Regions from separate parts of the Homo sapiens genome. Here region 1 is linked to region 2. Evidence: fine-mapped expression QTL. A gene starts in region 2. The other region holds a variant in brackets. All regions are shown on one strand. Distances are from middle to middle.

Region 1 (4,393 bases), 120 kb before region 2:
GATATTCATGTGGATGTCCTTGAGAACACTGAAGCCCCAAATTCTCCTCTGGGAAACCTCTGGGCTTTCAGAACTAGCCCAGTTCCCACTGGTAGAGATAGCAGCTACTCAATGACTATAAAACATGCAGAGTTTCACATAAGGTAGCTGTCTCTCAAGTTAATACATATCCTCCTACAGATTTGCACATACCTTCCCTTGTAACTTCTCAGCCATCTACTCTCCTCCTCCCTATTACAGTCTACAAAGGCAAGGTGATAGATTAAGTCCAGGCCCAAGTCCATGTCACATAGTTGCAACTGATTCATGAACACACTCCGTCATTTCCTCATTCCCTGAGTACATAATCAAGAAAGATATACTTAGCAGCTGGCAGAAGCTTTATATTGATTTATTCACTTACTGAGGAAGAGCAATGATGATGGGAAAAGCCTAGAAGCTCCTAAAATTTTCCTCAACCCTAGATAAGATAGTAAATCAGGAGTAAGACCACATTCTGAGTAGAATGGTAGAGATTAGTAACATCTACTAAGACATAAGGGATACAGAAATGTTGGTTCCCAGTGTATCTTTGTTTAATTCATCAGTGTAGTCCTTGCAATAAAAAGATAGATTATAGCCAATAACTATGAGCTGCTATAAACCTTACCAATTGCTTCAATGGCAATTGCTGTGCTGGAAGCCAGTATCTTTACTAGAAGAGATTGGCACAACCTTTTGACATGCAGCTATTAATCTGGTGACTGTCTTATCTCCAATCTACAATGGGAGGAAGGATCCCCTTGAATGGATAGCAGTAGCACTATGTATTCAGACTCTTGCCCCAGGGCTATACTAACTTTTCTGCTCTGTCACAAAGTAAATCCAAACTTTCTTTGATCAGCTTGACATTCCACATAACATCAGGCTGATATCATTGACATCATGTTAATTAAATCTAAGAAGTTGCATATGGCAAGTACACTGCTTTCCTTGGTAAGACACATGTGTGACACACCATAGGAAATACATCCTACAAATATTTTAAAAGTCTGCCATATTGATGAAGTTTCTAAGCCTCTGACAAAATGGGGCATGCCCAGCCATCTCCTCTTAAGTAAAAGGCAAATCACTGTACCTTGCACTTCCTAGATAGACAAGTCATTGTATCTTTCATAGTTCTTGCTAGGCATCTTTGGACTTTGGATACAGGACATACCTCCCTTGGGAATACTGTTCCATCCTATTTGTCAGATAACTTGGAAGGCTACCAGTTTTCAGTGGGTGCCCCCAACAGAAGGATACTCTAAAATAGGTTCAAAATGCCTTTTGAGCATAGCCCGTGGTGCTACAGGTAACCTTGATGTGACACAGTGCAGAATCTCTGGAAAGCCTCAATAGAGTTTTTGAGCAAAGTCATGCCATCTGCATCAGAGAATTAGTTATCATTCCAAAATAAGCTCCTGGCATACTACTGAACTCTAACAGAAACTAAGTGCATGACCATGGGACATCAACTGACTATGTGACCAGAGATGCTTATTGTGATGATTAATTTTCTGTTCAACTTGACTGGGCCATGGGGTGCCCAGATATTTGGTTAAACATTATTTTCGGTTCTGTCTGTGAGGGTGTTTCTGGATGAAACCCTCATCACTAGTAATTTCTCATATGAAGTTCCCTAAATGTGGGGGAACCTATCTGTCTACAAACTAGCCACTCTCCCCTCCTCAACTTCTGGGTCCACTGGTATTTTTCCTGATTCCTTCTGTTGTAGCGACATTGCTTCTAACAATAACAGATTATCTTAAGGCAGCACCAATTGTACCACAGAAAACATTCTTGCATCCTTCGCCCTGACTTTGGGAATGTAGAGCATTTCCAACTTGGCCCTTTGGCTGCATCCTGAAGGCTGAACAGCTTCTAGTCACTACTTCTGGCTTTGGAAGTTTCTCAAATATAGATTTCTAATGGTCTCCTTGGCTCAGGACACACGTCATTTTCTCCGTTTCTTTTTGAGACTCTATCAT[T/C]ATGCTTGAAATGAGGGAAGCCCTCTCCCTCTCTTGTAGTGGGAATGGGGGTGGGATGTGGAGGCGGATTCATAGCATACCAGCATTTATCTCCAAGGAAACCCTCTCCTTGACCTTTTCAACCTCAACCCTTTGATGGTCATGAAGTATTCATTGGGATAAGAGTTCTAGAACACTTTCTTTGTACATCTGCGTAGGTGGTCTAGTAGTTCACTTCAGCAAATGTGAGTGATTTATACCCATGCCCCCTCAAATATTTTAAGACCTCATGCTAAAACTGTGACAGAAAAAGTCCCTTATTAACATCATTTGACATCAGATTTTGTTCATTTATGCATATATTTTTCATTTTTTATTAAGCAAGTGTTCTTTGCACCGTGGTAGCTGCTGATGATGCAAGGATAAAAACGATAGGGTTTCTGACCTGTGACAGTCCAGAGTTGAACAACTTGTACCCTGAGAACAAGCATTTAAGGACCTCTTTTCTAATTTTCTGGAGTTTAGCGGGGCAGACTGTCCTAGGAGAAGATCTGCTCTCTTTGCATGCTGCCTGCATAAAACATCTTCTTTGGAGATTCTGTCGTTTATTCAGTGTTTCTTCTAAGAACATTTCAGTTAAGATCAGAATGGCCTCAAAGCTCATCCTGTTTAACATCTCATGTGGGTGTTAAGTAGTTAGAACTGATAATTCCTCTATACTGAATGCTGCAGTTCTTGTCTCTCTTTAATCTTTGGAGTAGTGGACATGGCATTGATATTTATTGAAGGCTTCTCAAGTGAATTTAAAATGTAGCCAGGGTTGAGGTTTATCCCCAAAACACATGCACATGTGTGCACACATATATGCAAACACATCAGCAAGTTATACTTCTGCTCAAGGAATCTAATCTAGCTTCTATGATAATTGGGGGAAATATCAATTATTAAATCCACAGAGATGACATAAAGTACAATTCAGGCAACATCACTTCATTGTTATTTTGAGGGGTCCATTGCTCACATATTCATTCCACATTTATCTTCTGTCAGTCCAAAGGTAGAAATACCTGATTTTGCAAATGTTTCTCTTTCCTGTAGAGGTAAAAGGAAAGATAAGACCAGTCCTATTCACAAAGAAATGAGAAAGTATACTAAAAATCAATATTCTTTTAAAGACCTAGAGCACCATTACTGCTTCCTTAGACAAAATTTGTAGTAATGTTTCTACTTCACATTTTTATTGCAGAGTAAATTTGCTGAAAAGACTATAGTGAAAAATGATATTCAGCCTTAAGATATAAAACTTTCTTAAGAGTGGCATCATAGGATTACAGAATATTTTAGCTAGCATTCCTTTTCATAATTCTAATTTTTCCTGATGCTATTTTAATATGACCTTGAAGGTCAATGGAACTTTTAATGAAAAAATCCTAGAAACTCAGAGTATTTTCTGTAATAACTATGGTTTTCTTTGTTATAACCCTATTAACTGATTTTTTTTGCAACTCTATTAATGTAATAACTGTGTTAACACAAGTGCCTGACACTGTCTGTTGCTCTGCTCTTTTATGGCTTTTTACAATCTGTTTCTAATACAGTCATGCACCACATAATGATGTTTCTATCAATGATGGATCACTTATACAGTGGTGGTCTCATAAGATTATAATGGAGCTGAAAAATTCCTATCACCTAGTGATGTCATAGCTGTTATAAGATTGTAGCACAATGCATTACTTTTTCTATGTTTAGATACACAAATAGTTGCCATTGTGCTGCAAATTGCCTACAGTATTCAATATACAGTAACCTAATGTACAGATTTGTGGCCAAAAAGCAATAGGCTATCCCATATAGCCTAGGTCTTTTACTTTGTATAGATCTAAAGGAATAAAAATCTAAGCTATAAAAATTAAAAACCAAGCTATAGCGTCTAGGTTTGTGTAAGTATATTCTATGATGTTCACACAGTGACAAAAATCACCTAACAAAGCATGTCTCAGAAAGTGTCCCTGTCATTAAAGGACACATGATTATGTTTGTTGCTTTGTTATTGATTGTATTTATAAGTATCTCATATCTGCCTGCATTCATTTATTTATTAATTCCCCAAATATCTACAGACTGTTTGTATTAGATATACAAAGGTGAATAGGATATAATACTTCCTTGTGCTCTAATACCACTTTGCACATACTTCTTTCATAGCCAAATTTAGTGGGCTGTTCAAGTGAATTTATCTGATTCCTAGGAACTCTGTGTTATGTCTCTTGGAAGGCCCACCCCTAGTATTTGTGAGCCAAAGCAAGAATCCAAATGGAAGCCCATATGCCACGTATCTAAATATTTTAAAATTATACATTAAGTGATCAGATCTTTCAATAAAATATGCTCTTTCCTTCTAC
Region 2 (4,393 bases):
TTGAGAACTCAGTGAATTGCCAGCACATTTTGCAGTTGGAAGCTCAAATTTTTATAAATAACATGCGGGGAATCCAGATAGGATTTATTTTTTAATTTCACAATTGTATTTCCAATGCTGGATTCATAGGCACTTCCTTGTCATAGTAGCAGCACATTAATTTTAGCCTAAATAATTATTTAAATTATTTAACTATTTAAATTATTTAACTATTTAAATAATTATTTTACTAAGAAGAATCCACGAAATGAAAATGAGCACGTTCACTAATTTTCATATTGCCTGACCATCTCATAGCACCATGGTCACAGACTGCAAAGCCTCTCACCGGAACAAGACAGACCAGCAAGGAAGTGTAGGTTCAACAGCACATGAGAATCATAACTTTTAGTGCCAGAGTGTCTGAACCAGAGAGGAGGGAAAATGAGAGGCCAAGAGTTGTCTCCATTTTCTTCTCTTCACAGTATCCTGCATAGTGGCACAAATCGAACTGGAAAGCCCAAGCTAACAACACCGCCCTGGGCGAACCGCCTGTCTCCACCGGCTCCTCTGGGCAGGAGGCTCCAGCCTGGGGGTGCCTGACAGCTCTCCTTCCCCGGCGCCTGTATTATACATGTAACATTTATATTTCTATCCACACAGCGTTCATTCAGCCATCCATTCAATCACCCAGGCATATTTACACGGATGGAACACATTCGCGGAGAGATGTGTGTGTTTGAGTTCCAATCACTGCAGCCCGTATTGGCGCGGCGCTTTGTCTCGCTTTGGGTCACCACCACAGGAGCAACGATTTCGGGGACGGCACACGCCTGTGTGACCGCTTCCCACTCCACTTGGGTTCCGTGAGCGCGCGGAGCCGGAGGAGTCAGGGACGTGAGGATGCCCTACTTCCCGCAGCATCCGGATGGCAGGGTCTGCGTCGGAAGGCCCGGGAGGGCGACGCCCTCCACTGCTGCCGCGGGGTGGGTGCGCCAGGCCTGGGTGTGGCCTCACGGGAGCGAGTTTCTCTCCAGCCGCCTGGCCCACCGCTTTGGAACAGTGAAGCTCGAGTTGGGGTCTCCTGCACGCCAAGGGGAGAAATGTTTGTTTCTGACAACACAAGCAAAATTCTCTCTCCTGCACGCCAAGGGGAGAAATGTTTGTTTCTAACAACACAAGCAAAATTCTCTCTCTCTCTCCCTCTCTCTCTCTCTTCTCTCCTCTCTCTTTCTCCCTCCTCCTCCTTTCTTTCTTTCTCTTTTTCTTTCTTTCTTTCTTTCTTCCTCCTCCTCCTCTCTCTCTCTCTATCTCTCTCTCCACCCCCCCCCCCTCATATTTGGTTGTTTCCCCTCTAAGGGGCCACTTTCAATATCTGCCTGTGAGCCCAGCTGTCTGGCCCTATGTAGCATTGGGGAGACAGTAGACTTAACCCAGCGAAGTTTTCTTCTGTTTGCTCTTGCTGTGCCCAAGTTTCCTCTGGACTTGTCTTCCAGCGTCGGGGTGGGGGCTGGGGGAAGTAGGCAACCTAGCTCTGCCTGGTTGCTCCCTGGAAGCCAAGTCGAAGTGAACAAGTCAGTCCCAGGCCCGGAAATAGAATACAAACCCTCTTTTTGTCCGGTGCTAACAGAGTCCAGCAGTCAGAACTCCCTCGCGTCTCACGCTGGACCTGACCCGGGGCGCCGCCAAGTGCGCAACGCACAGTCACAGTTGGTGACTAATTAAGGACTGCCGCCCCTCTCCTTCACCTGCTACAAACTCAGAGCCCTGACTTCTCCAGAAGTACCTACCACTTGGAGGTGGCTCTCCTTCCCCGCCCCCTGCCCCAGTCCCACACCGCAGCAGCGCCTCAGCACCGCGACTTGCCGGAGCACCGCGAGTGGCGCGCGGGTCCCGCCTCCCCCGCGCGCCGTGACTCCCTGCGCACCGCTGGTACTCTCGCCACGCCGCCGCCCGGCACTGCAGCACCAGGGGGAGGAGGCAGGCGGAGGAGAGGAGGAGGACCGCAGCGTGCAAGCCGGGAGCCACTTTCCCGCCCCTCCTCTCGCCGCTGACACGCTCAGAGGAGTCACCACTCCGCGCGCTGCAGGCGAGAGTGGCAGACGGAGGCAGCCCGGGGAAGCGAGCCGGAGCGGCGCCCGCACTGAGGCGGCTGCAGTGCTGACACCACTCAGGGCAAGGGTGTCCGACGGCTGGAGCGGTGAGTGGGGGAGGTGAAGCGGGCATCCGCGGGGAGACTTTCCCCCGCTGCTGGATTTCTCTTCCCGACTGGTGGCCGGGCGCTGCAGCCTGGGGAAGTTTTTGCAGCCTTTCGGAAGCGCAACTTTGCCCCGCCTGCCCCCGGGGAAGCGGCTGCAGGTGCCCGCTGCTTTGTAGGCGCCTTTGTTGGAGAGGGACCAGGAAAGTAGGGGTAAAATAGATGCAGTGACCCCAGGGTTCGCTAGGGTAGGTCTGGGGACTGGGTCGCACTTTATCTGGGATTCCCAGAGGAGGTGGGTGGGCAGCAGCGGGGATGCAGGGGCCGCATCTGCAGCGACCGCCACGCTCTTTTTTGCTTGTGTGGTTTGACCGGCAGGGATAGGCAGATTCAAATCTAGCAGCCTAGAGCCCCGGGCTGGGTACCTGGACCTATACCTTCATAGCTGCCTTAGGCTCAACTTTTCGGCGGGGATCCCTCTGCAGACGTGCAGGTGGCGGGAGAGCAGAGGTAGCCGCAGTAAGTGCTGAGAGAGCCTGAAAGAAACACCATGAATTTTCAAACTCTCCCACATACATTCCCGAAGCGCCTGTCTGGCGTCTAAGAGAGAGCAAGAGAGGGCTGGAGAGCAGGGGAGCCCGCGGGGCTGAGGCTCTTTGTCAGCGCCTGCACTTCCTACGTTACAACGCCTTCATTCAGCAAAAACCTTTTGGGCGCCTGCTGTGCGCCAGGCCAGGCGAAGCAGACCCGAGGCTGTGAAGCTCAGAGGGGAGAGGGACCAATCGCAGTAAATAAGCTACCGAGGTAATCTTAGATGGCGATGAGGGCAGCAAAAGCCATCAGCCGACCCTCTGACCCTTTCTCTTAGTGGGCTTTTCCCCTTCCGCCTGGGTTCTAGAACTGGGAAGACTTTTCTCCAGAGCGTCGCGGGGAGCGCCCCGGGCTGGGCCCACGGGGACTGCGGAATACGGGGATGAACTTGGCTTGGGGCAGCCAGCACCCCACGGCAGATGAACAATCGGGAGCAGATCTGTGGGCGTGCGGGGACCTTAGGCGGCGCGCGGGGGCGGGGGGAGGGGCTGAGCCACGGGGGCTAGAGGTGCCGCCTGGACGGCCTGAGCTGGGGGCGCTCGCGTCACCTTCTACGTGTGCGAGTGATGCAAATGCAGACCCGCGAGGGGCGGGCGGGGGTGGCGGGCGGGGGCAGGCGACGGAGTCTCCGTCTGGGAGCGCGCGTGTGTGCGTCAAAAGCTCTGGGTTGATGGATGCCCCGCGGCGCGCCTGGCGCGGAGAGCGGCGACCCGGCGGGGCAGAGGGGGGCGGGAGGACTGCGGCGGCGCGGGGCGGCGAGGAAAGCCCCGCACGGCCTGGGCTGGCGGGCAGGCGGCTCCGCAGTGCGCCGCAGTGCCGGGAAGGAGCCGCAGCTACCGGGCGCTCCCCGGGGGACCGAGGAGATGAGGCGTCTTTTAAGGCTCATGAGAGCCTTAAGGAGATGAGACCGGGATGCCGTGATGGTCTCCTCTCCCGCTGAACCTAATCCCTTCATACTTAGCTGACTGCTAGCGCGGTAGCTTCCGTTTAATTCTTATCCTTAATTCTGAAGAATGTGGCATTAATCTCTCAGGCGTTCACTCATTTTCCATGGCAAGTTCCGAAAGGCCTCGTGCTCGTGGGAAGTTTTCATGTGAACGCCTAGGTGTTGAGGTTCGTGAGGTTCTGTAGTGCCAACCCGTTGCGCCACCATTCTGCAGGATTTTTGGCAGGAGGCCTGGCCTCTAAGTGAGGTTTAAGAATGTCTTACAAAACAATATGCCGCATTCCTCTTTCATGGCATAAAAATACGCGTTAAAAAACACTACTGATAACGCATTCTCTGGTGGAAAATAATAAATCAAATCCACGATCCATTTTATTCTTTTTTTTAAAGACCACTTTCTGGAAACCCAGTGACAAAGTTTTTCTACTGGCTTTACTGAAGGAGCCCAAATCTGCAGTATGTAGGCAAAATGAATGAAAGGGGACGGGGTTGGGAAAAAAGAAAGAAAGGAAGGGAGGGAGGAAGAAAAGCAATTATCAAGGAACCCAGAGACACAGATGCTAGTCACCATTTCCCCAAATATTGTGTTATGTCACCTTGGGCAGGTTACTCACCCTCTTGGGTTCATCTTCCACCTCTGAGAATTGTGAAAAATAGCTTATACTAGCTCTTATGTACCT

Evidence for each region. PIP is the estimated chance that this variant, and not a neighbour inherited with it, causes the effect. A credible set is the group of variants that fine-mapping cannot tell apart.
Region 1: its variant is the best candidate, but not a certain one, in a credible set for the expression of SV2C in tibial nerve (GTEx, PIP 0.54).

The regions. Positions count from the first base shown.
Region 1 is chr5:75,956,732-75,961,124 of GRCh38, forward strand. It overlaps a transcript of SV2C not described here. Among named protein-coding and RNA genes, the nearest start is that of SV2C, 120 kb to the right of the region's middle. The variant T/C (reference allele first, on the strand shown) is at 2,010.
Region 2 is chr5:76,081,334-76,085,726 of GRCh38, forward strand. It overlaps SV2C (synaptic vesicle glycoprotein 2C), which reads left to right and starts at 2,050. Exons shown (of 13, transcript NM_014979.4): 1 at 2,050-2,179. SV2C-AS1 (SV2C antisense RNA 1) reads right to left here and starts at 2,084. Exons shown (of 2, transcript NR_183290.1): 1 at 1,586-2,084; 2 at 73-1,063. RefSeq lists an enhancer at 861-1,414.